7 separate regions of the Homo sapiens genome follow, and regions 1, 3, 4, 5, 6 and 7 are each reported to be linked to region 2. The links are microRNA targets in miRTarBase. Many come from high-throughput screens and were not tested one by one. Region 2 holds a microRNA gene; each other region holds the end of a gene's coding sequence.
What was found. Region 2 holds the annotated microRNA hsa-miR-6756-5p (AGGGUGGGGCUGGAGGUGGGGCU, at 1,588-1,610, opposite strand). A microRNA usually pairs through its seed, bases 2 to 8, with sites in the 3' UTR of a target mRNA and lowers its output. Matches are read on the target gene's strand: a 7mer-m8 pairs with bases 2 to 8, a 7mer-A1 pairs with bases 2 to 7 and ends in A, and an 8mer does both.

Region 1: miRTarBase lists ADRM1 as a target of hsa-miR-6756-5p. Seed matches in the 3' UTR shown: 8mer at 3,221-3,228.
Region 3: miRTarBase lists OTUD5 as a target of hsa-miR-6756-5p. Seed matches in the 3' UTR shown: 7mer-m8 at 3,390-3,396 and 7mer-m8 at 3,315-3,321.
Region 4: miRTarBase lists MARCHF9 as a target of hsa-miR-6756-5p. Seed matches in the 3' UTR shown: 7mer-m8 at 1,054-1,060.
Region 5: the mRNA of SNAPIN is a reported target of hsa-miR-6756-5p. Seed matches in the 3' UTR shown: 7mer-A1 at 2,921-2,927.
Region 6: the mRNA of BCL7A is a reported target of hsa-miR-6756-5p. Seed matches in the 3' UTR shown: 8mer at 1,198-1,205 and 7mer-m8 at 1,195-1,201.
Region 7: the mRNA of RUSF1 is a reported target of hsa-miR-6756-5p. Seed matches in the 3' UTR shown: 7mer-m8 at 790-796, 7mer-m8 at 1,393-1,399 and 7mer-m8 at 1,465-1,471.

Annotation. Positions count from the first base shown.
Region 1 is chr20:62,308,038-62,312,046 of GRCh38, reverse strand. It overlaps ADRM1 (ADRM1 26S proteasome ubiquitin receptor), which reads right to left. Exons shown (of 10, transcript NM_007002.4): 8 at 3,869-4,009; 9 at 3,577-3,679; 10 at 3,185-3,392. The coding sequence ends at 3,286. LAMA5 (laminin subunit alpha 5) reads left to right here. Exons shown (of 80, transcript NM_005560.6): 70 at 1-127; 71 at 263-433; 72 at 511-646; 73 at 740-885; 74 at 953-1,145; 75 at 1,218-1,382; 76 at 1,475-1,628; 77 at 1,736-1,869; 78 at 1,966-2,059; 79 at 2,212-2,331; 80 at 2,572-2,982. The coding sequence ends at 2,711. Among named protein-coding and RNA genes, the nearest start is that of ADRM1, 7.0 kb to the right of the region's middle.
Region 2 is chr11:119,311,398-119,315,482 of GRCh38, forward strand. It overlaps MIR6756 (microRNA 6756), which reads right to left and starts at 1,615; the gene lies at 1,553-1,615. It overlaps MCAM (melanoma cell adhesion molecule), which reads right to left. Exons shown (of 16, transcript NM_006500.3): 2 at 3,742-3,866; 3 at 3,436-3,643; 4 at 3,282-3,352; 5 at 3,092-3,179; 6 at 1,373-1,552; 7 at 1,130-1,251; 8 at 869-1,031; 9 at 655-773; 10 at 411-552; 11 at 133-254; 12 at 1-24. RefSeq lists an enhancer at 3,724-4,085.
Region 3 is chrX:48,919,630-48,923,714 of GRCh38, forward strand. OTUD5 (OTU deubiquitinase 5) reads right to left here. Exons shown (of 9, transcript NM_001136157.2): 8 at 4,004-4,085; 9 at 2,395-3,666. The coding sequence ends at 3,545. Among named protein-coding and RNA genes, the nearest start is that of PIM2, 2.6 kb to the left of the region's middle. RefSeq lists enhancers at 692-751, 1,445-2,329, 3,874-4,085.
Region 4 is chr12:57,758,227-57,762,309 of GRCh38, forward strand. It overlaps MARCHF9 (membrane associated ring-CH-type finger 9), which reads left to right. Exons shown (of 4, transcript NM_138396.6): 3 at 1-74; 4 at 337-2,185. The coding sequence ends at 671. Among named protein-coding and RNA genes, the nearest start is that of MARCHF9, 5.2 kb to the left of the region's middle. RefSeq lists enhancers at 1,054-1,113, 1,234-1,283.
Region 5 is chr1:153,660,593-153,664,676 of GRCh38, reverse strand. SNAPIN (SNAP associated protein) reads right to left here. Exons shown (of 4, transcript NM_012437.6): 4 at 2,825-3,477. The coding sequence ends at 3,376. It overlaps ILF2 (interleukin enhancer binding factor 2), which reads left to right. Exons shown (of 14, transcript NM_004515.4): 9 at 203-281; 10 at 547-634; 11 at 1,401-1,462; 12 at 1,544-1,658; 13 at 1,882-1,972; 14 at 2,121-2,889. The coding sequence ends at 2,281. Among named protein-coding and RNA genes, the nearest start is that of SNAPIN, 3.9 kb to the right of the region's middle.
Region 6 is chr12:122,058,683-122,062,761 of GRCh38, reverse strand. It overlaps BCL7A (BAF chromatin remodeling complex subunit BCL7A), which reads right to left. Exons shown (of 6, transcript NM_001024808.3): 6 at 718-3,670. The coding sequence ends at 3,599. Among named protein-coding and RNA genes, the nearest start is that of LINC02985, 2.6 kb to the left of the region's middle.
Region 7 is chr16:31,487,174-31,491,173 of GRCh38, reverse strand. It overlaps RUSF1 (RUS family member 1), which reads left to right. Exons shown (of 13, transcript NM_022744.4): 13 at 242-1,699. The coding sequence ends at 339. It overlaps SLC5A2 (solute carrier family 5 member 2), which reads right to left. Exons shown (of 14, transcript NM_003041.4): 6 at 3,774-3,854; 7 at 3,415-3,644; 8 at 3,001-3,136; 9 at 2,684-2,791; 10 at 2,402-2,552; 11 at 2,126-2,294; 12 at 1,836-2,051; 13 at 944-1,070; 14 at 405-865. The coding sequence ends at 639. Among named protein-coding and RNA genes, the nearest start is that of SLC5A2, 6.1 kb to the right of the region's middle. RefSeq lists an enhancer at 1,627-2,286 and a silencer at 3,284-3,443.

The DNA of each region.
Region 1 (4,009 bases), not on the chromosome of region 2:
GGCTATGCCAGGTGTCCCTGCAGCAGGGCCGTGTGAGCCTACAGCTCCTGAGGACTGAAGTGAAAACTCAAGCGGGCTTCGCCGATGGTGCCCCCCATTACGTCGCCTTCTACAGCAATGCCACGGGGTGAGCCTGGCCGCTGGGCCCTCATCGTGAAGGTCTGGAGGGACGCCCGCCTGCACTTGCCTGGACCTCTGTCTCCTCTGAGGTGGGGGTGGGCAGGGTGGGGAAAAACCGAGCCTCCGGCCTCCCGCCCCCCAGAGTCTGGCTGTATGTCGATGACCAGCTCCAGCAGATGAAGCCCCACCGGGGACCACCCCCCGAGCTCCAGCCGCAGCCTGAGGGGCCCCCGAGGCTCCTCCTGGGAGGCCTGCCTGAGTCTGGCACCATTTACAACTTCAGTGGCTGCATCAGCAACGTCTTCGTGCAGCGGTGAGCCTGGTGGGCGCTGGGGGACAAGGTCCCAGCTGGCCTTCCGCAGCTGCTGACCGCCTGCCCGCCCTGCACAGGCTCCTGGGCCCACAGCGCGTATTTGATCTGCAGCAGAACCTGGGCAGCGTCAATGTGAGCACGGGCTGTGCACCCGCCCTGCAAGCCCAGACCCCGGGCCTGGGGCCTAGAGGACTGCAGGCCACCGCCCGGAAGGTGGGCACCCCAGGGGTGAGCAGGCAGAGCTGGGGTGGCTGGAAGGGTGGCCCCTGTGTGGGCGGCCCCTGCATTCACCATCCACGCCCCCAGGCCTCCCGCCGCAGCCGTCAGCCCGCCCGGCATCCTGCCTGCATGCTGCCCCCACACCTCAGGACCACCCGAGACTCCTACCAGTTTGGGGGTTCCCTGTCCAGTCACCTGGAGTTTGTGGGCATCCTGGCCCGACATAGGAACTGGTAAGGCCAGGCCCGGCTGGGGTGGGCTGAGAGGGGCCGCGCAGGCTGACGCCAGCTCCGCTTCCAGGCCCAGTCTCTCCATGCACGTCCTCCCGCGAAGCTCCCGAGGCCTCCTCCTCTTCACTGCCCGTCTGAGGCCCGGCAGCCCCTCCCTGGCGCTCTTCCTGAGCAATGGCCACTTCGTTGCACAGATGGAAGGCCTCGGGACTCGGCTCCGCGCCCAGAGCCGCCAGCGCTCCCGGCCTGGCCGCTGGCACAAGGTGAGGGCCGAGAAGAAGGAAGGTGGTGGGCAGGGCCTGGCAGCCCTACCCTGACCCATCTCCTGCCCCCAGGTCTCCGTGCGCTGGGAGAAGAACCGGATCCTGCTGGTGACGGACGGGGCCCGGGCCTGGAGCCAGGAGGGGCCGCACCGGCAGCACCAGGGGGCAGAGCACCCCCAGCCCCACACCCTCTTTGTGGGCGGCCTCCCGGCCAGCAGCCACAGCTCCAAACTTCCGGTGAGAACCATCTTGCCCCAGCCCCCACTCCCCACCCACTGTTCCCTTTCAGCTGCCCTGGGCCCTGATCCCTGCCCGGTCTGCTCCTATAGGTGACCGTCGGGTTCAGCGGCTGTGTGAAGAGACTGAGGCTGCACGGGAGGCCCCTGGGGGCCCCCACACGGATGGCAGGGGTCACACCCTGCATCTTGGGCCCCCTGGAGGCGGGCCTGTTCTTCCCAGGCAGCGGGGGAGTTATCACTTTAGGTCTGTGGGTGCTGGCATCCCAGGCCTCAGCAGGGCAGGGCAGGGGGCTCCAGGAGGTTCTGGGGAGGGGCCCCCCCTTTCTTCTCCATCACAACCCCTCCCCGCAGACCTCCCAGGAGCTACACTGCCTGATGTGGGCCTGGAACTGGAGGTGCGGCCCCTGGCAGTCACCGGACTGATCTTCCACTTGGGCCAGGCCCGGACGCCCCCCTACTTGCAGTTGCAGGTGACCGAGAAGCAAGTAAGCCTGGCAGAGGTGGCGTGCCAGGGCAGGGTTTGCCTCCCCATTCTGGTGACCTCGGGGGCATAGCCTGACCCTCCCTTCCTACCCCGCCAGGTCCTGCTGCGGGCGGATGACGGAGCAGGGGAGTTCTCCACGTCAGTGACCCGCCCCTCAGTGCTGTGTGATGGCCAGTGGCACCGGCTAGCGGGTGAGGCCCCTCCTGTGGCCAGGGCACTCTGCCACCCCCACCCTTCTGCAGAGCGGGAGCCAGGCGGGACTCTGGGTGGGGTGGCTTCTTTTGGGGCTGGAGAGAGGCTGGGCTGAGGACCACCTGGCCTCAGGAGTCCCCCTTTCTCCCAGTGATGAAAAGCGGGAATGTGCTCCGGCTGGAGGTGGACGCGCAGAGCAACCACACCGTGGGCCCCTTGCTGGCGGCTGCAGCTGGTGCCCCAGCCCCTCTGTACCTCGGGGGCCTGCCTGGTGAGTGCGGCCTTGATCAAGGGTGGGGGAGCTGCCCCTCAGGACTAGGTGCTGCGTAACCTACCACCCTCCCCCCACCCCTCCACCCCCTGCCCCCTCCCACCCTCCTCCCACCCCCCTACCACCCTCCTATGATGTGGAATGAGACAGGGGCTGGGTGGGGCACTGACGTTTGGGAAGGGCCTGTGGGTCTCTAGCTGCCCACCAACCAGCCTTCTTCCATCTTCCCTGTGCCCCCAGAGCCCATGGCCGTGCAGCCCTGGCCCCCCGCCTACTGCGGCTGCATGAGGAGGCTGGCGGTGAACCGGTCCCCCGTCGCCATGACTCGCTCTGTGGAGGTCCACGGGGCAGTGGGGGCCAGTGGCTGCCCAGCCGCCTAGGACACAGCCAACCCCGGCCCCTGGTCAGGCCCCTGCAGCTGCCTCACACCGCCCCTTGTGCTCGCCTCATAGGTGTCTATTTGGACTCTAAGCTCTACGGGTGACAGATCTTGTTTCTGAAGATGGTTTAAGTTATAGCTTCTTAAACGAAAGAATAAAATACTGCAAAATGTTTTTATATTTGGCCCTTCCACCCATTTTTAATTGTGAGAGATTTGTCACCAATCATCACTGGTTCCTCCTTAAAAATTAAAAAGTAACTTCTGTGTAACCGAATGAATGTTGACTTAAATACGGAGAGAGTGAGTCTCAAGACAGATCTGGAACCGGCCTGGACAGAGGCACCAAACTCTTCCTGGGGTGACCGTTTTCCGTTGTTAGGTCAAATAACTAACTGTCTCTGGGACCCTACAGCAGCTCCCCACGCTAGCACCTGTCCAGCCGAAACTCCCTTTGGGCAAAGAAACTAAGCATTGGCAGGTAAAAGAAAAGACTTTATTAATAATCAGTGGGTGGGAGGTGAGGGTGTGCAACGCACTGCAAGCGCCCAGTTCCTCGGAGGACGGCGCGTGGCTCAGTCCAGGCTCATGTCCTCCTCTTCGTCCTTCTTGTCCTTCGTGTCGCCCTCTTTCTGCTCGGGCTTGGCGTTGTTCTGCATGGCTTTGGCAAACGCTTCCACATCTAGAACACGTTAAAGACACAAGGTGGTGTCTAACCCTTGCCCAGAACTGGGGATCAAAGCGATGGGATCAAGGGCAGAAGGGCTGTGACCTTTACCCCCTCAGCCCCACTTCTGCAGATCCAGGGGGACAGGAATGGACCCTGCCCCTGGCTCTGGCCTGGAGGTGCAGGCGCAGCCACTTACCGCCCTTGTTGGCGGCCTCCACAGCCTCTGCAGGCAGACCGAACTGGCACATGAGGGGGCCCAGCTGCCCCGAGGCCAAGGCTGCGCTGAACATGCCCAGGGCCTGCAAGAAGAGCCAGGCGAGGGCTGAGCTCCAACCCGGGCTGCACCCCAGAGCCACACTGCTCAGCTGCCAGCTCTGCGGGTCAGGCACATGAAGCACTGGCCATGGTGAAGGTGGGGCAGGGCCTCCTCCTCCCCCCTGCCCACTCCCTGAGCACACAGTGGAGGACACCCTGGGCCCGGCCTCTACCTGCTGGAACTGGGGCGAGGTCAGGGTATTCTGGATCTCATCCGCGGTCTGCGGCAGCGACTCCCCAGATGGCAAGTAGGGAAGCAGGCGCTCCTGGACATCCGCGTTGGCGAGGATGGGAGCCATTATCTCCGGCGTCAG
Region 2 (4,085 bases):
TGGATCTTGGTCTTGTTCACTTGCCTGCGAGGAAAGGAAGGAGGCAGCTCAGGGGATGGGGAGGATCTCTGGTCCTGGCCACAAAGCGCAGGCAGGGATTAGGAGAGTGTGGCAGATGAGACACCCGCTCACCGTGCCGTTGACGTTCCAGGAGATGGTGGGCCGGGGGTGCCCTGACGCTTCACAAGACAGATTCAACACCATATTCTCTTTCACCCACACCTTCCTCTCCTTGAATGCCATCCAAGGGGGGCCTTGGGGAGGTAGGGAGAGGTGAGGTGGCAAGCCCAGCTAGCCTGCCTCCCCCTCCGCACCAGAGCTCCCCAGGGCAGCAGGTGGCTTTTTGTCAAAGAGCTTAAAAACCACCCCACTTGGGGTGACCTGGTCTCTACCCAGAGGGAGGGCCTCACCAAAAATGGCCACGTTGACCAGCTGTGTGCGGTTCAGGCCGGGTATGCTGGGCACAGACGCCACGCAGCGATAGCCGCCTCCTGCCTCCCGTTTCAGGTCATGCAACTGAAGCACAGGCCCCCTTTCCAGCACCTGGCCTGTCTGGGATGAGAGATGGGTCAGAGGGTCTGGGAAAGAGCACATTCTTGTCACCGCCAGCCCCACCCACCCCATCAGCCCCTTGCCCCAGACCCGCCTGGGTACCTCTTCTCTCAGCCACTGGAACTCGAGGTCCTGGCTACTCTCTGCCTCACAGGTCAGGGTGAGGCTGCTGCCTTCCTGTCTCTCAGGGGCTGCGGGACTCACTCGGACGTCAGACACATCTGGGGGTACAGCAATCATGTCACCCAGGGCAGGGTGGGGCCAGTTCCCTATTGCCCCAGCCTGGTCCCCCTGTCCTGGGTCCCCAGCCCCTCACAGTTCACCAGTAGTTCCTGTGGTTCACTCAGCAGCGATATCATGGTGTCCAAGTCCAGGCCCTGACATTCATAGCGCCCACTGTGTTCCTTCCGGGCAGGCTCCAGCACCAGGACCCCGTTGTCGTTGGTTGTCTCTTCCTCTGCCTCCCTGGTGCTGGGGTTCTAGGGAGGATTGGGGAGGTGAGCAGAGTGCACCTCCCGCCACTCCACCTGGGTCTCTGCTTGCATCCCCACCTGCACCCAGCACAAAGCCCCCACACCTGCTTGCTGATGCTGAAGTGTGGTGGAGGGTTGCCATCAGCCAAACACCTGATTTCCACGCGGTCCCCTTCCTTCAGCATTCCCACGGGCTCCACTTCCAGCCACACTTTTTCTGTCGGGTCTGCATAGGCAAAGGGGGTAGCTCTTGGCCCATGAGTCAACCCTGGGCTGGATAAGGGGGAGCCAGCAGGAGTTTCCAGCAGCCCCAGCCCCAGTAAGCAGAGAGTCAGGTTAGTACTCACAGAAAACAGGGACGGTGACTTCCCTGGACTCCTTCATGTGGTTCCCACTGGGCAGCCGGTAGTTGAGCTCACAGTAAAACTGGGCATCTTTGTCTTCTTTAACCAGCTGTGCCTTCAGAATACTCTGCAAGGTGTACAAACCACTCGACTCCACAGTCTGGGACGACTGAATGTGGACCCCTGGGCAGGGAGGAAGGGGAGGAAGACTCAGCCTCAGCCCCACCTCCAGCCCCACCCTAGGGTTGTCCACTGGGGTTGGCAGGGGACCATCTAAATAGCCCCCTGTCCCCTGTAGAAGGCCAGGTACAAATGCAAGCTGGAAACCCTTCAACCCAGCACTTTTACTGCTCAGTGTCAACCCTAGAAAAACATTTTCATGTCTGCTCATATCCAAGGATGTGTGCAAAGAATGCTGCAATGATAAAAACGAGCAGCCGTCTAGATGTCCACTAAATGGGGAATGGTGAACTCGACTACCTGCTATGCGTAGTATGGAAAACTTGGCAGTAAGCAAAACGATCAGTTGATCTAAATAGACTGACCCAGAAACATTGTATAAAAGAAATTGTCTAACAATGTATACCATACACCACCACTTAGACCAGGGTTTCTCAGCACTACTGATAATTTTTTTTTTTTTTTTTTCAGACAGAGTTTCACTCTTGTTGCCCAGGCTGGAGTGCAGTGGTACAATCTCGGCTCACCGCAACCTCCACCTCCCTCCCGGCTTCAAGTGATTCTCCTGCCTCAGCCTCCTGAGTAGCTGGGATTACAGACATGCGCCACCACGCCCGGCTACTTTTGTATTTTCAGTAGAGATGGGGTTTCTCCGTGTTGGACAGGCTGGTCTTGAACTCCCGACCTCAGGTGATCCGCCCACCTTGGCCTCCAAAAGTGCTGGGATTACAGGCGTGAGCCCAGCCAGCACTACTGATGTTTTAGGCCACGTTGATTCTTTATTGTGGGGGCTGTCCTGTGCCCTATAGGATGTTAGCAACATCCTTGGTCTCTCTACCTACTAGATGGCAGTAGCACCCCCTCTATGTGTGACAACCAAAAATATCTCCAGACATTGCCAAGTATCTCCTAGGAGGAGGGGGTACAAAATCACCCCTGGTTAAGAATGACTGATTTAGATAATAAAACACAGAAGCCTATATCATTCTAGAAATATTTCTATATATGAGCAAATACATAGAAATAGGCTTGAAAGAACACACCCTGATAGCAGAGATTATTTCTGGGAGGGGGGGTCTCAGGCAAGAAGAAACTTCTAGATTTTTTGTCAGTTTAAATTCTCATGAAAATATTTTCAAGTACCATTTGTATAATTTTTTTAAGTTAAAAGCTTAATGAAAATATAAGGCAGTTCCTGTGTAGTACCATAGGGACAGCTCTTTTTAAGAGATGGGGTCTCGCTCTGTCACCCAGGCCGGAGTGTGGTGGTGCAATCCTAGCTCACTGCAGCCTTCATTTCCTGGGCTCATATGATCCTCCTGCCTCAGCCTCCCAAGTATCTGGGACCACAGGCACACACCACCATGCCTGGCTAATTTTTTTATTTTCTGTAGAGACAGGGTCACCCTATGTTGTCCAAGGTGGTCCTGAACTCCTCACCTCCAGAGATCCTCCTGCCTTGGCCTCCCAAAGCACCGAGATTACAGGTGTGAGCTACCACACCTGGCCCAAGGGTGGCTTTTGGGAGAAAGGGCTACTCACGGTTCTTCTCCTCCTTCAGAGGCCGGCCATTCTTGTACCAGATGACTTGAGGAATGGGGTACCCGTTCCTCCCTACACAGGTAGCGACCTAAAGAGCACAGGGTGTGAGTCTCCCTGCCTCCGAGCCCCCTTCAAGCCCCATCTCAGCGGCTGCGCACCAGCTGCCCAGCCCACCTGCCACACATCTCACCTCCTCAGGCTCCTTACTGTTCACAGGGATGCCCAGGGGGTTGACCTGGATGTTTGGCTCCTCCGGAGCTTCTACAAGAAAATAGAAATGAGGGGGACATCTGGCCACGTCCCACCACCCTCACTACCCTGCTGGCAGACACAGGGTCACGCACTGTAGACGCGGAGCTGGATGCGGTACTCCTGGGACCGAGGGCGCTTGCCCTGGCACAAGAAGATGCGCTCGTCTTGGGGGGTGACTTGAGTCAGGGCCAGAGTAGCCCCTCTGTCCTGGAGGCTGAGCCGCTGCTCGTACTCCCCAGGTTCGCTCTGGCCCTGGCCCTGGCGCACACGGAAGATGAGCGTCCGCTTCTCCTTGTGGACCTAATGGGAGGAGACACAGAGGAGGAGAAGGGTCCTGGGCTACAAGAGGGGCAGAGTCTCCCTCCCCGGGCTGCTCTTGCAGGAGCCCAAGCACTCACAGAAAACCAGTCGACATGGCTGAGGTTGCCTTGGGACTGGGAGAGGCCGCACTTCAGAAGGGCTGTGCTGCCCACTTCCACCTCCACCAGCTCAGGCGCAGGCTGCTCAGCCTCTCCGGGCACACCTGGGGGAGGGAGGCGGGGCCCCCGCAGCTGTGTCAGCTCCGGCTGCTGTCCGCCCCTCCCCTCGCAGCGCTGCTGCAGCTGTTTTTCCTGCCACTCAGAGGGTCTGCAGAGGGCCCTGTCCTCTGAACGCTCTACCCCCACCCCGACCCGCGCCCCACCTGGGCCAGCCCTCTCCCCGTCCAGGAGATCCCAGGTCCTTGGAGCCAAGCAGAGATTGA
Region 3 (4,085 bases), not on the chromosome of region 2:
CAAAGGCAGCATTGCCTGGTGAGTGTTTATTGGAGCTTTTAACCCTGAGCCCTGGGCCCAGTCAGCAAGTCTAGAATCTAGAACAGCAGGGGGTGGTTCTTGGGGGATGGGGGTGAGCCCAGAGTGGTGGTGGCATGGGGCTGCTCTTGGAGTTGAGAGAGGCAAGGACTGAGAGACATGATAGAGGCTGCTAGAGAAGTGGCAACTCTCAGACACAAATTTGTGAAAAACAGCCAGAAAAGGCGCCACACCCCAGGAAGAAAAATGCACTCCAAAGACACATGAATGCCAAGATATACACAAACACATACTGTCAGACACATTCACAGAAACGACCTAGATACACATGCAGCCAGAGACTGACATACACTTTCAGGCAAGCACACTGTCAGAAAAATAGTTATGTCCTAGAATGACACCCAGAGATACACTGTTACAGAAAGGCACTCACGCAGACCTACATTTGCCATGTGATGACACAGAAATGTCCCGTCACACTGGCAGAACTTGTCACAAACACACTGTCACCATCAGATATGCACTGTCACAGCAAGACTTGTACTGTCCCAGAAATGAGAGACGCAGAGTCTGTCACAGGAAGATGCACAGATGCTCCAGGGACACACATGCACTGCTCTGAAGGCAGACATGTACTGATGTGATAGAATCACATTTTGTGGCAGTGTCACAAAAACAGACATGGATAGACCTGTTCAGACACAGACATACATACACCATGACACATGCAGTTTATCAATGGAACAAACTGTCCAGAAATAGCTACCCAGAATCTGTTGCAGGAACACAAACGGACATCCACCCCATCAGACAGAAACCACAGATGCACTGTCACAGACAGACCCACGCAGGCATGCACGCATCTTGGATTTAGACACAAACTGTCAGAGATAAGAGTCCCACACTCAGTCACCATCTGACACACCTGGAAACAAGCCCTTCATCACACACACAACTGGGGACACTCTGTGAGCTGCACATGAAGACTTGGACTCACCACAGTCACACACACACAGACAACACCAAAAAAGCACACATGTACTCTCCTTTGTTCACCCAACGTTATTGGGGGTGGTTTGCTATAAGCCTGCCAGGCCTTGATGGGGATGTTGGTATCAGAGATGTACAGATAAGTCAGGCATCAAACCCGTGCCATGAAGTTTATCTGTAGTACAGCTACTGGGGAGATTTTTAGATAGAAGTGAGAATGTGAATGGGCTTCTCAGCAGGTGACCCTCTGTCTTGAAAGACAAAGAAGGTTGGTGGCTCAGGACAGGGGAGGGCAAATTGCAGGCAAAGGCCAAGAACACTGGACAGAGCGGCGAGAGATTGGCAGGGGCCAAATGGTGCAGAAACTTCTACAAAAAGAATACTACTAACATTTGTGCTCTCTCAATGTGCCAAGCACTGTGCCCAGGTAGTACGTTACTTTGATCATACATATTCCCTCTAGATGATCACAGCAGAAGCATGAGGGAGTAGATATCACTTTTTTTTTTTTTTTTTAAGACTGAGTCTCGCTCTGTCACCCAGGCTGGAGTGTGGTGGCGCAATCTCGGCTCACTGCAACCTCCACCTCCTGGGTTCAAGCGATTCTCATGCCTCAGCCACCCAAGTAGCTGGGATTACAGGCACGTACAACCATGAACGGCTAATTTTTGTATTTTTAGTAGAGATGGGGTTTCTCCATGTTGGCCAGGCTGGTCTCGAACTCCTGATCTCAGGTGATTCACCCACCTCAGCCTTCCAAAGTGCTGGGATTATAGGTGTGAGTCACTGCACCCAGCCTAATCACCTCTTGTACAGATGAGACACTTGAAACAGAGAAGCAATTGACCAGGGCCAGGAAGGTTTCAAAGCAACTCTACAACAAATAGATGCTTGGCCACTGGGTTCCAGACACACTCCGCAGACAGCCACTCAGCTAGCCATGCCCTCAACTGCAGAACCAGACACACATCCTGTCAGAGGGTCTCCATTATCATGGCATGGTGAAAAAGCTGCTTGAGAAAACCTGGGGGCCAGCCAGCCTTCTTTACCTTGGATTTACCCCTAGGGAGGACAGGCAAAGAGGTGTCAGACTGGGGGACAAGAACAAAAAAGGGTTTAGCCGTCCTTCACCTTCTAAAACCTAGTGGGTGAGGCCCCTCTGGTTACTTCCACTAAACTCATGTTGCTACAAAGTATCAGTTGCACTTTTCCAAGGCTTTTCTTCATCAGATCATGATAAGGAAAGAGCAGCATTCATGGTGAGAGGCAGGCGGAGAAGCTGGAATTCAGGCAGGAAGTTCAAGCTCACAGTCCTCTGCTACCATCACCCCCCCCCCCCCAGGAAATAGGGTAGGCAGGGGTGGGGTCAGCAGGCAAAGACGCAGCTTTTCCAGTGGCAATAGGTCCAGAAGGAGGTTTAATAAGCAGCAAATCAAATACAAACTCCAGGCCCCCAGACAGACCCTGCTGGAGAGCATTCACACCTCTGAGGTCAAGCCAAGGTCCGTGCCATTGCATCCTCTGCCCAGAGGCCCGCCCAACCCCTGCCCCACACAGAACAGAGTCGCTCAGGGAAACTGACATTTGGTTTTATTGTGCCAAGGACATTACAGATGGCGGATCTTGTCAACACCTGCAGGGCACGGGTGCCCCATCTGCCAAGGCTGCTCCCACACTCCCTACACTCAAATCCCGGGTGGCAGCCATAATCCCCAAAGATGACCCCCACCCCAAGATTCCAAAGAAGCTAGTGGTGGTGGAAGCAAAAGGAATGCAGCAAGGTCAGGGTTTCATTGTCCAAGCCGGCCTGACACCTGCCGCCCTGCCCTTGCCCAGTGCACACCCTAGACCCTGGGCCGGCCTCCATGCAGCTGGAGGCCAGAAGACAGCAACCCATATCTTTGCACCCTCCTCCATGCCCCATGGCCTGCCTGCCCAGAAAGATGCCACCTTCACAGAGCCAGTGCTGTCGTCTATATCATTTTTGATTAGTTGATTTTATAAGATAAAAGTAATTTTAATAAAGAAAAAATTCAACATTGAAGGCTCAGACGTTCTTGGGGGTACTGGGAAGGGAAATTTCCCACTTCTTCCTCCCACCTCCCTGGCATCAGTGTCGGGGGGTGGCGGCAAGTTTTTCTCATCTTGGAAGGAATGAGGGGCAGGGAGACTTTCCTCTGTCTGAATGTCTCTCTCCTCTGGGGCTGCCTGGCTGCCAGTTGGTCTGTCTCTGTGTGCCTCTTGTCTATCTTCGGCACCCTTGCCCGAGTCCCCTGTGGAATGCAGGGATGGTTCTGTGCGGGATGGGGTGGGGGGCAACAGGGCACATCAGCTGGCAGAGAGACAGGTGATAGTGGCAGCGGCAATGAGAGAGAGTGCAGGGGTGGGCTAGCCAGAGGGAAGTGAGGAGGAGGGAAAAGAGGGGAGAGCAGAAAGAACAGAAGGAGGCAAGAGGGAAGAAGCCAAAGAAGGTGAGGTGGCACCGGAGAGCAGGAGTACTGGGGTTGGGAGATGGTGTCCAATCCCTGGGTCTCCATCAACTCTTGTCTGGGGGCGGGTCTCTGTGCACTTTGTTTTTCTTCATACTGTCTAGGTATTCCTGTTGGGACACTGCCAGCACCGAAGCTAGGATCTCATCATCATCCCAGTCATTCAGACCTGCTGGGCGAGAGGAAGAGGAAAAGGATGATGGAGCGCTCTCAGCCTGCCTTCTCCTCACCCTGTGCCGACATCTGGGGCTCTGGAGAAATCCCATAGGGCCCTTCTCACTCCTTTCTCAAAACAGAAGGATCTGCTAGGCCTGTGAAACCCCACTTAGACCCCAGACCCTTCTGGGGCAAATTCCTTGGATCTGAAAAATCCCCTCCAGTGCCTCTCCCTTCTTTTCTTGGGGAGATGGCCAGAGGCTCCAGAAAGCCCCTCTCAGGACTTGCCACTTCTTCCAGTCTCTCCCAGCTCCTAGCAGCCTCCATCCCCCCAGACAAAGGAGGCTTACCAAAGGCAGAGGGGGACATCTGCTGAATGAGGGCCCGGCACTCCAAAGCAGGGTAGAGGGACACAAGGGGGGAAGTTGCCCG
Region 4 (4,083 bases), not on the chromosome of region 2:
CAAGTGGCAACGACAGGATCTGCTCTTTCAGATCTGCTACGGCATGTATGGCTTCATGGATGTCGTCTGCATAGGTGAGGGCACCTCTCTCTCCTTTACCTGCTCTGTATCTTCCTCTTACACACCTAACTCCCCTGCCCATCCCCTCAGTTTCCTGGCTTTATTTTCTGCCACTGTAGCCTTTAGTGCTATCCTGGTGCCCCCTCAACCCACTTCCCTGCTTCTCCAGGGCCCTTTGCAACTGTATCTTCTCACTCTGAAGAAATGCTTGCTTAAGTACCTCTGGCCTAGATCTAGGCCACAGTTAACCCTGGATTTCTTATTCCTATTGCTCAGGCCTCATCATCCATGAAGGCTCCTCTGTCTACCGCATCTTCAAGCGCTGGCAGGCAGTGAACCAGCAGTGGAAGGTCCTAAATTATGACAAGACCAAGGACATAGGAGGAGATGCAGGGGGAGGGACGGCAGGGAAGTCAGGCCCCAGGAACTCACGGACGGGCCCCACCTCTGGGGCCACGAGCCGCCCCCCAGCTGCCCAGCGCATGCGGACGCTCTTGCCTCAGCGCTGCGGTTATACAATCTTGCACCTCCTTGGGCAGCTGCGGCCACCAGATGCCCGTTCCAGCTCCCATTCTGGCCGAGAGGTTGTCATGAGGGTCACTACAGTCTGAACTGGACTCCAGGAGCAGGGATCTTGAGTCAATGCATCAGTCAGAGAAGAACTCTCATGGCTGCTGGAGGTACCAGCTGGACAAGGTGTTTGGGGCATGCTGCCCCCGTCACCGAGGATCTGTGTGGGTAGCCTCAAGCTGGAGACATTGTCTGGCCTCACTGCCCACTGGGTAGAGACACCTGGATGACATTTCAGTACCCGCTGGCAGCTCCTCCCACTCATCCAGAGACGGCCGGTGGGCAGGCGGGGAGAGCAGCTTTCCTTCCCTGGAGAGAACCGTCTTTACCTCAGCTCCTAGGGCCTCCAGCCCCCCAGCTCCACCACGGTGACTTGGTGAAGGGGGACCAATGCCAGAAGAAAGGGGCTGTAGACCCCTATTCCCCACCCCATGGCCACAGGGCATCTGGCAATAAGACTAGTATACATTGACCTCCCGTTCCCTGCATGAGGGCGGGGAGTTCCCCCTGCTCCATCCCCCATTGCATGGGGGAAGGGCATAAAGAATCATTTATATGCACGTGGAGACTCCTTTCTCATCTGGGGCTTTTCTGGAGGGTTGGGAGATGTGGGGAGGTTTCTCTGCACAGGTTGCAAATCCCAAATGCAGCAGTGGGTTCTGAGTTGTAGGTGTGACTCCCACTTGCTGGTGAATAATTCATGTTGGCTGCTAGGTGGCAGCACTCCGAGGTATCTAAAGGGTAGACCTGGACCTGCCACCTATGAGTTGTGTGATATAGAAAAAAATCTCTTAGCTCTGGTTTTCCTGTCTACTTCATAGGGTTGGAATAAGGATAAATGAGGGACAGGTTGGATGCCGTTGCAGAGAAAATCAGCAATGACATAAAGAGATTTCTAGAATAGTTGATGGTCCATTTATTTCAAATAGTAGCTGGTGTAACAAATTCTAAAATGTGTTTTTCATCTGGAGTTGCACAGAATCATGGAATTTTGTGTTGAGTGACATAATAGGTATGGAAATATGAGGGGAAATAGACATTGCAAATGTGAAGCATGGTGGTTATTTGTTAAGAATGAGAACTCCTCTGACTCTAAATATTTGGGCCTGTGGGCTGGGGAAGGCTGGAGCCATCTGCCTTGTTCTGGAGATCATCTGGGTTCTATCAGTCCTTCTCAAGTACTGTGCTCACCCAGAAAAGCAGTGTGAAGTGAATTTGGACTCATTTGGAGTGAGATGGAGGGAATCCCCCCACTCAGTGTTATGAGTCTCCAACCCCAGTTTAAGCTATTTCCATGGCAGTTTAGGGTCACAGGTTTGATCCCGGTGTGCCCAGCCAGTGGTATTAATGGATGGCATTATGTTTGGAGGCAGCAGCATAGAGGACTGTTGTTTATAGAGAAAAGATTTGGGAAGGACTGTTTACAATGTGGGTCAGCCTGAAGCCTGGGCACTTTCTTCTGTGACCTTGGGGTTGTGTATTATATGAATGATGCTGTTTTTAAGTAAACCATTCAACAGCAATTAAATAATTCCTTCATTCACGGCTAAAGTCAGATCTGGAGGCCTTTCTTATTATTGATCCTTCTATCAGGGAAGGTTCTGCTTTGCCTCCTTCCTCCCTGGGGATGTTTTGGAGAAAATGCTTCCCTTGCAAAGGCCCACACACATCCTTGCCCAGGAAACCTTGTCCCCTCCCCTCTCCCAAAGGGGGTCTTGGTTGCTGTCCATGGTGCTGGCATCCAGACCAGCCTTGGGATGTAGGAACAAAAGCTGGACTGCGGTTCAAGTAATTTCAAAGTGTGGAAGTATATAACTTCCAATTTTTGAGGGAGTAGAGTGGATAGGGAACTGAGACTGAACCCTCCGTCTGCTCAGTAGGAAACTGTTTCCCCAGAGAGAGAACCCTCTATATCCCCCATCTTGGGAGACAGAAAGGCCAGACTTTACTGATTTGCCATTCTCAGAAGAGCTGGTGGGGACCAAATGGGGGATTGCAAATCAGAGTGACTACTAATATCTATACCAGCAGATAGGGCTCAGGTAGATAGGACACATGTGGAGCTTCCTGTGCCAAGCCTGAGCTGTCCTCTGTGATGGCTCTGCAGGGAAGGTTAGACATACCAAAGAAAATAGACATACTCACACACAAACACACTGTATCCATTTACACTCTGGGTCCTAAAATGAGGCCAAGTGGGACACTTTCCCCTCTCCTTCAGCACTAATGGAAGTCTTGGTATGGGAGTTGGGGCCAGCAATCAGTATGGTCTCCTCTTCTTCCTTTTTCCAACTTAAAAAGATCATTGTCCAGGAAAGGGTCATGGGAACTGCTGCCCTCTTCAAGTGGGCATTCCTACTTGCCCAGTGGAAAATAGGGAGTACGGATGGGCAGAATTCTCATCACTGATTCCAGGGTAAAGGGTCTGACAAGCTGGGCTTTATTCTCCCTCAAAGATCAAATCTGCTGAAAATTTGGTCATTTAGGTTCAAATTGAGTTCAGTGATAGAGGAATAGGGGTGGAGACTGAGTATACAGTAGGGAAGGAGTTGAGAAGGGCAGAAAATGCACAGAAACCTTGATCTTTGTACGAGGCTTTGGGTCTGCCCTGCCCCTCTGTAGATCTTGCATAATTAGATGCCCCTGCAAAAGGCCTGGTGGCTACTGGAGTTTCTGCGGTCAGGGAGCCATGTCTAGGCCAGGAGGCCAAGGTGTGGAGGAGGAAGAAGTGTGAAGTGAAATCTCCATCTACACCCAGCTAATTGGAATAGGGTGAGCGGTAGGGGAAGGGGGGCAAGTCCTGACATGGGAAGGGTAATCTGGGATGCAGAAGGAACTGTGCAGTGTGCTGAGAGATTTATTTGGATGGAAGATGAGTTAATCTGTATACATCACAAGAGGAGAGCTGTGCCCAGCCTCTGGGGGGCCAGAGAATGCTGACTTAGGGAAACAGTCTCCCTCTGCCCACCGCCCTTATCCTGCCTCAGTGCCCCAGGGCTTCTGGCCACCCCCACACTCAGCTTTCATTCTGTCTGTCTGATTCCACTTCTCTGCTTGTATCCCTTCCTCTGAAGGAAATTATCTTGGAACAACTTTTCCAGAGAGGGCAAAGTGACCAATCTAGGACTTCCTTCAATCCTGGCAGTCCAAAAGCACTTTCCTTACCAGAGTCAGCAACCTCTGCCCATGTCTGCAAATCCCTAGCTCCGGGCCCATTTTACAGCTTAGCCCCTGCCGTTACTTTTCACCCCCCACCCCCTTAATCTCTTACAGGAAGCCAGACTAGACTTGGATGTTCCCACTACAGACAGAAACATGTCTGGGTTTGTGTTACAAACTACTCTTCCAGGCGTCCAGACCTCCCATTGTTATGGGGGTCACCCCCAGGACCTGAGAAACCAAGGTGGGAGATGGGAGGGTTAGAGTCTTGCCTCCAGGTCTTGTAGGAAGTGG
Region 5 (4,084 bases), not on the chromosome of region 2:
GAGGCAGGAGAATTGCTCGAACCCGGGAGGCGGAGGTTGCAGTGAGCTGAGATCACGCCACTGTACGCAATCCAGCCTGGACAACAGAGCGAGACTCCGTCTATCCTGCCCTCCTTCCAAGTTTTTAAGACTGTAGCAGTGGTAATGAGTAGCTTGTTTAATGAAAATGTTTCATCCTGGCATATCATGCTTGTCTTTTTAGTGGATATCAAAGTATTGCAGAGTGCCTTAGCAGCCATCCGACATGCCCGCTGGTTCGAGGAAAATGCTTCTCAGTCCACGTGAGTCCCTCTCTAACCATTTGGATTAAGATAAACTTTTTAACTGCAGTGAATAGCAGGATACCCCCATACTTCCTCTGACAGAACTATTTTGCCTGTGACCTCGTGTCTGGATTTTTATTTTTACCTTAAGGAAGCAAATTAAGATTTAGAGAAAGCAGAGAATGTATAGTTCTGGAAATAGCATAGTCAGCTTCAATTCTACCTTAGGCATGGAAATACATGATCGTATTGATTTTAATGTTTGGGTCACTATTACTTTCAGAGTTAAAGTTCTCATCAGACTACTGAAGGACTTGAGGATTCGTTTTCCTGGCTTTGAGCCCCTCACACCCTGGATCCTTGACCTACTAGTAAGTAAAGATGGGCAATTGGAGTTCCTCATCATCCTTATTTACTAGTAGTAGTAGTAGTAGTAGTAGTAGTAGTAGTAGTAGTAACTCTGAAATTCACCAGAGTCTGAAATTTGGTGAAGCTTAAAAGAAATTTTATTGGTAGACAAGTAATCCAATAAAAATTCAACATTTACATGACTCAGAGACATTTGTTTAAAAAAAAAGAAAAAATTCAAAGTTTTTTTTTTTTTTTGTATATTCAATGAAATGAGTAGTTACTGAGTTATAGTGTCCCGTTTTCTTCTCATGACTGCTACCATTTAATCATGGTAGTAGAGAGAAATGAGTGAGCAGCCATTTCAGAATTGCTTCTGAACATGAAAATTTTGGCTAGACTTAGACCTTAATGACCAGTTTTCCTCGTGATCATTTAAGGTTTTAGTTTGATGCCTGTAATCCCAGCACTTTGGGAGGCTGAGGCCAGAGGATCACTTGAAGCCAGGAGTTTGAGACCAGCCTGGGCAAAATAGCGAGACTCTGTCTCTACAAGAGAAAAAAAAAAAAATTAGCCAGTTGTAGTGGCTTGAACTTATAGTCCTAGCTTCTCAGGAGGCTGAGTCAGGAGGGTTGCTTGAGCCCAGGAGTTCGCGGTTACAGTGAACTATGATTGCGCCACTGCACTCCAGCCTGGATGACAAAGTGAGGCCCTGTCTCTAAAAAATAAAGTTCTAGTTATCAGAAGTGCCATTTTGATGGCACACCTACTGGATTTATTATTTTTCAGGGCCATTATGCTGTGATGAACAACCCCACCAGACAGCCTTTGGCCCTAAACGTTGCATACAGGTACAGCATGCTTTGGGTTTAGGGTTGGTTGTAAACTATTTTGTGCATTCCTTTAATACCTCATACCTCCCTGTGTTCTAGGCGCTGCTTGCAGATTCTGGCTGCAGGACTGTTCCTGCCAGGTTCAGTGGGTATCACTGACCCCTGTGAGAGTGGCAACTTTAGAGTACACACAGTCATGACCCTAGAACAGCAGGTATTGGGACAGATATGAACTGAGTTGTTTTGCCCCACTCTTTTGAATACTGCTGCTCAGCAGGCAAAGCGGAATATGGTCTTTACGGGTCAGGAATTTGGGGATTCTGAAAGACTTTGGTCCTGAGATTTAAAAAGCTGTCTTAATCTCTGTTTTCAGAAGGGTATTACTCAAATAAGGTCCTTTGATTTTCCTTGCTTACTCTCACTTTGCTTTCCTTCAGGACATGGTCTGCTATACAGCTCAGACTCTCGTCCGAATCCTCTCACATGGTGGCTTTAGGAAGATCCTTGGCCAGGAGGGTGATGCCAGCTGTGAGTGACCACTGTGGGTCAGGGGTTTTGTATTGTAATCTGGTACAGAGAAGCTGTACACTACTTAAATGTCTTTAATATTTCCACAGTGTAAGTAATGACTTTTATGCTGGGCTACTCGTCTAAATCACCTTTTTCTCTTTCCTAGATCTTGCTTCTGAAATATCTACCTGGGATGGAGTGATAGTAACACCTTCAGAAAAGGCTTATGAGAAGCCACCAGAGAAGAAGGAAGGAGAGGAAGAAGAGGAGAATACAGAAGAACCACCTCAAGGAGAGGAAGAAGAAAGCATGGAAACTCAGGAGTGACATTCCCTTCACTCCTTTTCCTACCCAAGGGGGAAGACTGGAGCCTAAGCTGCCTGCTACTGGGCTTTACATGGTGACAGACATTTCCGTGGGATAGGGAAGATAGCAGGAAGAAAAGTAAACTCCATAGAAGTGTCATTCCACTGGGTTTTGATATTGGCTTAGCTGCCAGTCTCCCATTTGTGACCTATGCCATCCATCTATAATGGAGGATACCAACATTTCTTCCTAATATTCTATAATCTCCAACTCCTGAAAACCCCTCTCTCAACTAATACTTTGCTGTTGAAATGTTGTGAAATGTTAAGTGTCTGGAAATTTTTTTTTCTAAGAAAAACTATTAAAGTACTTCCTAGTAGGGCTCTTGGTCTTTCTGGTTGGTGTTTTTTGTTTGTTTGTTTTTTTGCATGTGGCAACCTTTTTTGCTTTTGGCTTTGTGTACTCTTTTGTTGAAAATGATAATTGAGTCATTTAATTATAAATACTCAGATCACAATTTGAAGCTGTCTTTGAATTAAAGGACAAACTCCTGGAACCTTTCCATATACCAGAGTAAACTAGAATATCATTTTAAGTATTTATTGAATAAAATGATTCTATCAACACTGCTACTGTATTCAAGCCAGTGCAATAAAAAAGTGGGTGGACAGAGGTCATTCACTTTGACTTTGCCTGCCCCCTCCAAATCCCCAGTGTAAACAGGAAAATGAGAAGTCACAGGTAGAGGACATGCTGTCCAGGCCCATGTAACCAGGCATGTAACATACAAAGGAAGCCCCTCTGGTTAACTAGTCCTGAAGAAGGTAAGCCTCACGTATGCAGCTTAAAAAAAAAAGTAGAGGCCTCAGCTCATTTGTGAAAGGAAGCAAGAGCCATAATTAATGTAAGTCCTTTGGGAACCTCATTCTGGCTGTGTGTAGGTTTCCTGGGGCCCCTACATAAATGGGTAAGACGAAGTGCTTCAAACAAACTGTACGGCTCCCTTTTTAATGTCTGAAGGTCTATGGGGACTGTCTCCTAGGATCTTTGCATGTCTGTTGAAACAAGGCAGCTGGGGAACAGTACTTGTGCTACTGAGTCCATAGGCTCATCTGTTATTTGCCTGGGGAGCCAGGGGGGTAAATTCCCGAATCCAGCATTGCTCTCCTGCGGGCTGTTTCCTTGGCAACACTGTGGTTTAGCCGTCTCAGTCGTTCCTACAAGACAAGGAAGGTTTGGAATCTTAACCACTGTGAAAGGCTTGAGAGTGTAAGTGAACTAGGTGCTGAAAAATACCGGGCGTGATCTACCTCAAAGTCAGTCTTCAAAAGTATATATAAGAATGTAGGCCGGGCATGGTGGCTCACACTTGTAATCCCAGCACTTTGGGAGGCTGAGGCGGGTGGATTACCTGAGGTCAGGAGTTCAAGACCAGCCTGACCAACATGGTAAAACCCGTCTCTACTAAAAAATACAAAAAAATTAGCTGGGCATGGTGGCGGGTGCTTGTAATCTGAGGCAGGAGAATCGCTTGAAACCGGGAGGTGGAGGTTGCAATGAAATGAGATCGTGCCACTGCACTCTAGCCTGGGTGACAGAGGGAGAACTCCATCTCAAAAAAAAAAAAAAATGTAGGCCAGGCATGGTGCTCATGCCTATCCCAGCACCATTTAGGAGGAAGTGGCAGGAAGATCACTTGAGCCCAGTTTGAGAACAGCCTGGGCACCATAGTGATAGCCTGTCTTTTTTTTTTTTTTTTTTTTTTCCCGAGACGGAGTTTCGCTCTTGTTGCCCAGGCTGAAGTGCAATGGTGCGATCTCAGCT
Region 6 (4,079 bases), not on the chromosome of region 2:
CCTGAGTCCCTACCACAATCCAGAGTCCCCTCAGAGACAGGGAAGCTGAAAACATGTCCCTGCTGGAACCCAGGTCTCGGGGTAGGCGGATCAGGTGTGGCTTTTTTTTTTTTGAGACAGAATCTCACTCTGTTGCACCCAGGCTGGAGTGCAGTGGCGTGATCTCAGCTCACTGCAACCTCTGCCTCCCAGGTTCAAGCCATTCTCCTGCCTTGGCCTCCCAACTAGTTGGGATTAAAGGTGTGTGCCACCACACCTGGCTAATTTTTCTATTTTTAGTAGACACGGGGTTTCGCCATGTTGCCCAGGCTGGTCTCGAACTCCTGACCTCAGGTGATCGCCCTTCTCGGCCTCCCAAAGTGCTGGGATTACAAGCATGAGCCACCACGCCTGGCCTCAGGTGTGGCTTTCAACCTGGGGGCCTGACCCGGCATGAGAGCCCTGCAGGGGACTGTCCTGCTGTTTTCTCACCTGCACAAGGTGGCCAACAATACCTGCCCACAGAAAGGAGCAACTAGTGGCTTGCCTGGCATCCAGCTGGTGCTTAATAATGGCAGCTCTTATGACTATGGAAGGCAACAGCTCCTGTGTGCAAGGAACTTGTGTGTCTTGTAGAATCAGGGCCACACGGCCAAGCAAGAGAGGCCGGAGCAGCTGGAGAGGGACACCGTCACCATCGATCTGACCTTACTTAAAATGAGACAAAACCACAAGGTATTCATGATTTGAAATTTTTATTTTCTGAAATGAAACAATTGTACATTGTACAAACCATATCTACTGATGGAATAAATAAGTGAAAAATTATACTGCTGTACAACACACCAAAAAAAAAAAAAATTCTTGAAAGGGGAAAAAATTAGGTAACGGTGAAAAAAGGTCTTTATGCCTCTAACCAGGTTCTTGGCGATAATGAACATTCCAAACCATGACACCGTTTGCTAATGGGAGGTCACCACCCTAGAGGAATCGGTCCACAGCCTTCCGGGTTGTGGGTGTAAGTGCCAGCACTTTGTGGAATGTGTAGCCGCAGCTTCCCCGACTTCACGTTTTGGGGGGAATTAGGTTTGCCCTGGGAGCCCTTGAGGCCACGGGGCCTGATGTCCACGGAAGGCTTTTGCTCGGGATCCCCCGCCCCCTGGCTCGAAGCTGAAAGGTCTTAGATTCTGTGGTGGGGGGAGGGCGAGGGGTGCAGGGTGGGTGGGGGGCAGCGGCTCGAGGAGCGACTGCGCCAGGGAAGGAAGCACATCGGATTTTTGCAGTCTTGTCATTCTGCGTGGAAGGCCTTCTTGGCCAGCGTGGAGTGCAGGGCTGCTGGCGCTTTGCCTGGCGTGGCCGTGGTGGGGCCCAGCTGGTCCCAATCGCCGGCCCATTCCTACCTTCAGGCACTTCAGAGAAATACTAGTGACAGCCTTGGGACGGTGGACGTCGTCTGAGTCCTCACCTGCGCCAACTCCCCTTGCCTGTCCAGAGAGGCTGCGGTCAACGGCAGGGCCACCTACGCCTCTCTGTTTCTGTGGATGTGTGTGTTTCATTCTCCTTCAGCTGTCTTGGTTGTAGCCTCTCGTTTCCCAAAAACAGAGAAGGAAATAAATATCCAAATTCATCTCTCACCAAGATGGAGTTTCGCTGCAAAGAAAAATGTGACTCTAACTCTACGGAATCTGGAGGTAACGCCGCCTCGAGATGCGTGGAGAGGAACCGCATCAGGTAGGTTCTGCGCCAGGATGCAGGACACAGTTCTCAACAAAACTGACTGCCTAAGGGGCAAAATTGATAAGTACAAGGATTTTTTTTTTTAAGACAGAAACCTTTCGGCATTGCTAACTTCAACATTAAGATTTTCAAAGTTGTGGTTTTTTTTTTTTCCCTTATTTCAGGAGACATTTTGCATGAGGTATTTGAAATTCAGGAACATTTTGATTCTTCTCGAAGTGCAGGAAATAGACAGGATCCCTTAAAAAAAAAAATAAGAGCCTCACCCTCAGAAACTCTTAGAAAATGGAATCCAGCAGACACTTCCCATGATGGTCAGGAGAAAGAGCCACACGTCAAAGGTGGTACCTGAATATGCACCAATTAGCCCCCAAAAACAACAAAACCCATGACCCCACCCCACCCCCAGTAACACACAACTCAAAGGGAGTCAGAACTCCAGTGCAGTAAAGAAAGCTTAGGAAAAGGTTTAAGGTCTGAGGAGTTCATATATTAATTAAGAGCAAACCAGGCCTCAGAACCAAACGATTAGGCAGTTCGTCCAAGGGGGCGTCTCCGTTCAGTGAGAGGAAGCTGTTCCAGCGAAGGTGGGGGATGGGAGGGAGGGGAGATTGCGTCTCTCCTTTCTGGAGGGTGTGCAAATCTTTCCAATTCCTCGACGCCTTGTTTGTGGCCTTCGAGGCCCGGCCATCAAGGCCCACTCCCCGGTGGGGACAGACGGCATGTTCTGGGGATGAGACACGGTCCAGCTGTTGGCTCAGAGTCAGAACAGCCTGAGAATAGGAAAGCACGTGGATTCTGACCACTGCGATCCTGCCTCTCCGGGGCACAGGCTGGGGCGTCGGGGGAGGCAAAGGGCAGCAGGTGACCGTGGATTTGAAATCCAAGCGACGTCCTATGAGAGAAAGTTCAGCACCAGCTAATCCTGCCGCCGGCTCCCAGCCTCCCCGGCCCACTCAGTGCCTTAAGGAGACAGCCTTGCAGTCAGCCAGAGAAGCCATTTCGTATTCGGAGGTCTGGGAGAAAGCAGTGATGGGGGTGGTGGTGGTGGGGGCAATAGAGAGGAAGTGCCAGAAAATTCCAAGGGCTTTGCACGTCCATCTGGGCCATGGTGGGCTTGGAGACGCCCAGTCCTAAACGCCCCAAGGAGGGGAGAGCACAGCGAGTGCCCAGCCTGATCCAAGGGGCCGAGCCCTTGGGGACTGTGCCCCAACACCTGCGCGTCCTTGGGCCCTGGTGCCTGGTGCTTGGGGCGTGCCTAAGGTCCCCCTGCACCTGCAAACCAGGTGGGCTAAGGAGCTCCTTCGCTCCACCCTGCCTGCTCCGATGAAGTCCTGGGGCAGGGAGGAGAGCGGTGAGTAGGGTGGCAGCCGCCGCCCGAACCAAACCAAGAGGGCACTTTGCAGAGGGGGATGTAAGAACCACCAGGATACATGCCAGAGGTCACCTCAAGGGCACAAGGCACAAAAAAAGAAAGCGGAAGGAATCGGTTGAACAGTGGAAAGCCCCGCCAAAAAGCGTTCCTGATCGGTACCACCCTCCGATAGCTTATATCGTTACATAGAGAAGTGGGGGGAAAATACAGCAGCAACACAAATGGAATCCTGGCTTCCGAGACAGTGTGCAGACACTCCTGAGCTGTCAGCCCCGCCTGCCTCCCCAAGGACAGTCCCTTAAAGGTTTGAGTGTTTTGCTTCACAGCAGAGTTCTTCAGTGTCTGAGAAGTGACGCCGTTCTGGGTCTTCTTGGATTTGCACTTGGTAAACTTGAAACGTTAGTAGTTCTGTTCGCACCCAAGAGGAATCGCTGGGGCAAAGTTGCTCTAGAATTAATTGCTGATGTACCTTCCATGGAACATGGATCGGAGGCTTTAAAGCATCGTCTACATCTCTTCGGAGTTTTGTTGAGAGGCCTCCAGTTTCATCTTTTTAGAGGGTGGCACTCCTTCCAAATCCTTGGGGAGAGGAGAAAAGGGGAACACAGGTTAATGGGCCAGGAGAGCAAGTTAGGCCAGGCGTGAGGCCGAAGGTCAGCCAAGGAAGGAACCGAGCGGGGGCGGCTTTGTGGTTCAGACCAGCAGTTCCAGACCCGAGGCCCAAGCGTGGACTCCAGAGAGTTTGAGGACCTATGGAGACCCTCACACCCAAACTCTTCCTGGAGCTATGGAGCGCGGTGTCCCCTGGCCCCTGCCTGACCCTATCACATGCCAATGGCTGGTAACTCGGGAGCATTTCCTACACTGCTGCCTTGGACCCTAGGCTCTCCCCACTCATTCAGACTGGACCAGAAGTTGCTGTTATCAATCTTCCCATCTATGATTCATTGCTAGGGTGATTACTTGTGATTATTGTTTCAAGTTCACC
Region 7 (4,000 bases), not on the chromosome of region 2:
AGGCCCTCACATTGGCTGATGAGGACGTTTTGTCTGGCGCCTGTTCCATCCCAGCGCTCTTCTGTGTGCCATTTCAACGAATTCTTGCTGCAGCCAGGTGTGGTTTCAGCCTCATTTTATGCCATACTCACCCAGCAGAGGCAGTGGGAGCCCCAGTAGTGCACAAAGCCTGCACCCAGCCTGTGCCTCTCCTTACCCTTGTCCCCAGCATTCCCGGCAGCACCCCATGATCTCTCCCCAGGACTGCAGGATGCCGGCTGGAAGACCGAGAAGCACCAGCTAGAGGTGGATGAGTGGAGGGCCACATGGCTTCTGTCTCCCGAAAAGAAGGTCTTGTGAGCAGCCCAGACGGAGGCCCAAGCCCAGGGCAGGAACCTGGAGCAAGGACACTTTGGCCACAGCAGGACAGGGGAAAGGCAGCTTTATTTTTCCTTAGGGCAACTGCAGCGGGTGGGCCAGGCCCTCATGGGAAGTGACTGCCAATCAGATGCAGTGGGCCCCAGGCAGAGGAAGGCCGGGAGAAGGGGAGCCAGGACCTTCTCACCCCACTGCCCCTTCCCCTTTTCTGGGGAGCACCGCAGGCTCCTCACCCCCACTTCCTGTGAGGCTGTGGCTTATGGTGTCCAACGCAGTTGGTCTTAGGCATAGAAGCCCCAGAGGAACACGGCCACTGCCATCATGAGCAGGGCATTGAGGTTGACCACACGGGCCCAGCTCGGGTCCTCGCTGATGTCCTCCAGCCGCCTGGCTGCTGCCGCTGCCTCCTCCTGGGTAAGGGGCGGAGGACTGCCCACCCCACCTCTGCTCATTCCACAAAACCAGAGCAGGCACTGGCGGAAGAGGCTTGGTGCCGGGGCCTGGGGCTCTGAGGGAAATTGAGGCCCTGCAGTTAGTTTGCGGGAACTCAGCTCCTCCAGCCCCACCTCCCAGCATGGTGCCCTACCATTCATCTCCATGGCACTCTCTGGGCACCCATTCTGTACAGGGAGTGAGGAGCCTTGCTGCTCATCAGCATCCAGGTCCTCCCGTTCCTCCTTGCTATGCCGGAGACTGAAGACCAGGCGGTGGAGCTGGGGAGGGTGGGAGCACGAACGAGGTGGGAGTTCTGTCCCCCCATGCCTGGCCCTAAAGTCTCTTGCACACCAGCTCGTCACTGCCTGCCCTACCCACCTCTGTCCAGTCTACACACCCAGCCCAGGCTTAACTCATGCCAACTCCACCCTACATGGCTGCCCTGTGCCCTCGGGATAAACCCCAAGCCCCTGAGCTTGTGTTTAAAGCCGTTGGCCTTGCTCCCCCAGCTTTGTCAGCTCAGGTCTGTCTACACCCAGATGGTAGCGCTTGTGACACTGGCCTGGCAGTCCTGCTCACAGTGTTCTGTGCCTGTGTGCTCCCACCCTTTCCTCCTGCTGCTGCAGAAACCCGGCCATCCTTCCACACCCAGATCTCTTGTCCTGTCCTCACCCCACCCTGCCACCATCAGCCCTGCCTGGAGCCACCTGCCCTTTGGCAACAAAACCAAACCTTTTTGTGGGCGTTCAAGATGGTATTGTGCCCACCAGTCAGATCCTGTGTTTTGAGTCCCAAAGGCCATGCCAAGGATTGGCTTTGGGAGGCTTTAATCACCAACCCATCAACATCAAGCCTCCCCCAGGCCGGTTCAAATAAATGTATTTAAATAAAAATTCTTGCTCGGCAATTGCAACTGCAGCTGGACCCCCAGCCCATTCCCAACCCTCAGTCGAGAAATTCAGGTCCTCCCAGCTGGGCACTCCAGGAAGCAGAGGGTAGGTGCTGTGTCCCACAGTGCTTGCCTGGGGCACCTGGCCACTCACGTGCTTTCTGGGGATGGGCGCGGTGCACAGGGAGACCGTGAGGGTGAGGAGGCCAGAGCAGAAGAACAGCACAATGGCGAAGTAGAGGTAGTGCACGCCGCAGAGGAAAGCTGGGCACGCCGAGGGCTGCACACAGCTGCCCGAGCCGAAGGAGAACTCGGGAATCAGGCGTGCCAGGCCCATCAGCAGGCCCCCGATGAGTCCCCAGAAGGCGCCCTGCGAAGGAAACAGGTCAGCCTGCTGAGGATGTGCAAGCCCAGCCCTGCCGTCACCACGCGCGTGCCGCTCACCTGCTCATTAACGCGCGGCACGAAGAGCGCCAGCACGAAGACGGCGGACACGGGCGGTGCCAGGTAGCTAGAGACTGCCTGGATGTAATCGAAGAGCTGCCCGCCCTGTGCCGCCTGCACCACGGGAAGCCAGGCCACCGACACTACCACGATGAACACCACCCAGAGCCTGCGGCGGAGGCCGTCGGATCGAACCCGGACCCTGGGCTCCCCTGCAGGTGCGCAAGCCCCCGCCCCGGGCTGATCCGTTGGGGAGGAGGGGAGCCCAGGCCGCACCGTCCCACCAGCAGCAGCTCGCGGTCGCCGGCGCGTGGCCGCAGGCGCGTGTAGATGTCCATGGTGAAGAGCGTGCTGCTGCTGTTGAAGATGGAGGCCAGCGAGGACATGAGCGCGGCCAGCATGACCGCCAGCATGAGTCCGCGCAGACCTGCGGGCCGACGGCAGCCGTGAGGCTGGGGCCACTGGGGGTCCAGGGCGGCTGCAGCTGCGCGAGGGACGACCCCTCCCAGCAGCGGGCTCCGCAGCGAGCTTGCGCCTGTGGCCCGGGGCTGCCCTTACCGTTGGGCATGAGCTTCACGACGAGCCGCGGGTAGGCGATGTTGGAGCAGCCCACCTCCGTGCCGCACACGCGCCTGCACACCTCAGGCACCACGCACGCCACCTCGTCTGCCAGAGAGAGGCCACCGCGCCGTTAGGACGGGGCCTGGTCTGGGAATCCCAGGAGGTGGGGACTGGGAATCCTAGCAGAGGAGGCGTGCGACCCCCGGAGGGAGGCGGGACTCCGGGCCCAAACTGCCGAGTCTTAGGAGGGTGACGGAACTGGGCGACGGGCGCCCGGTTGCTGGCACAGGAAAGGGGCGGGGCAGGGATGTTACCTGGGTACAGAATGCGGCTGATCATGCCTGGCATGACCATGAGAAACATGGGCGTCAGCTTCAGGTACCCACACAGGATGCAGCCCGCCTTGATGTGGGTCAGGCTCTTCCCGGCCAGGCAGCGCTGCACGATGACCTACGGGAGGGGCGTTCAGCTGCCCGCTTGCGGGCCTCCCCTCGGCCCCGCCCCGCGCCCCGTTCCGCTCTGTGCCCCGCCTCTGGCTCGTGAGTGCCCCAAGTTCAGCTGCACGCTTGGAGTAGATGGAGCCTTCTGTCTGGTTTAGCACCAACCCGAGGGGTTCCCGCCCCTCAGACTGCGCCTTAGACCGTTGTGGGGAAGGCGGGGAGGGACTCAGGCTCCGCCCGTCTCGGCTCCGCCCCGGCCTCACTGCAGGCGCAGCCCTATACCCGCACCTGGTCGCTGCACCAGTACCAGCCCGAGACGATTGTGAGTCCGAGGAGCAGCGCGGGCCACGGCAGATCCCCGGTCACGGGGTGCCGGAGCAGGTGGTAGGAGTCGGGCCGGGGTCGATAGCAGAAGCTGGAGATGTTTCCCACGGCTGGATCCTCGGACACCGTCAGCGAAGTCGCTGCTCCCAGGTATTTGTCGAAGAGACCCGAATACCCGCCCACCTCGTGGAAGGCTGCCGGGCAAGGCCGTCAGGGGACCCTCCTTAGGACCCTCAGACCGGAGACGCGCAACGGCCCCGCGCGCAGGCCGAGAGCTCCGCGACCATGCCCTCCGCGCCCCTCCCTGGTAGGCGAGCCCCTACCGTAACCCATGAGGATGCAGGCGCCCCCCAGAATGACGAAGGTCTGTACCGTGTCCGTGTACATCAGCGCGGCCAGCCCTCCTGCAACAGGCCGGGGTCAGGGGACAGCCCAGCTGTTTATGTTACAGGCTGGCCTTAGCAATAAGGCGTCTTTGTGGGAATTTGAAAGAGTTCCCCTTCCTGGAGAATAAATTTCAAAACGATAGCCTGTTCTCGGGGCTCATGCA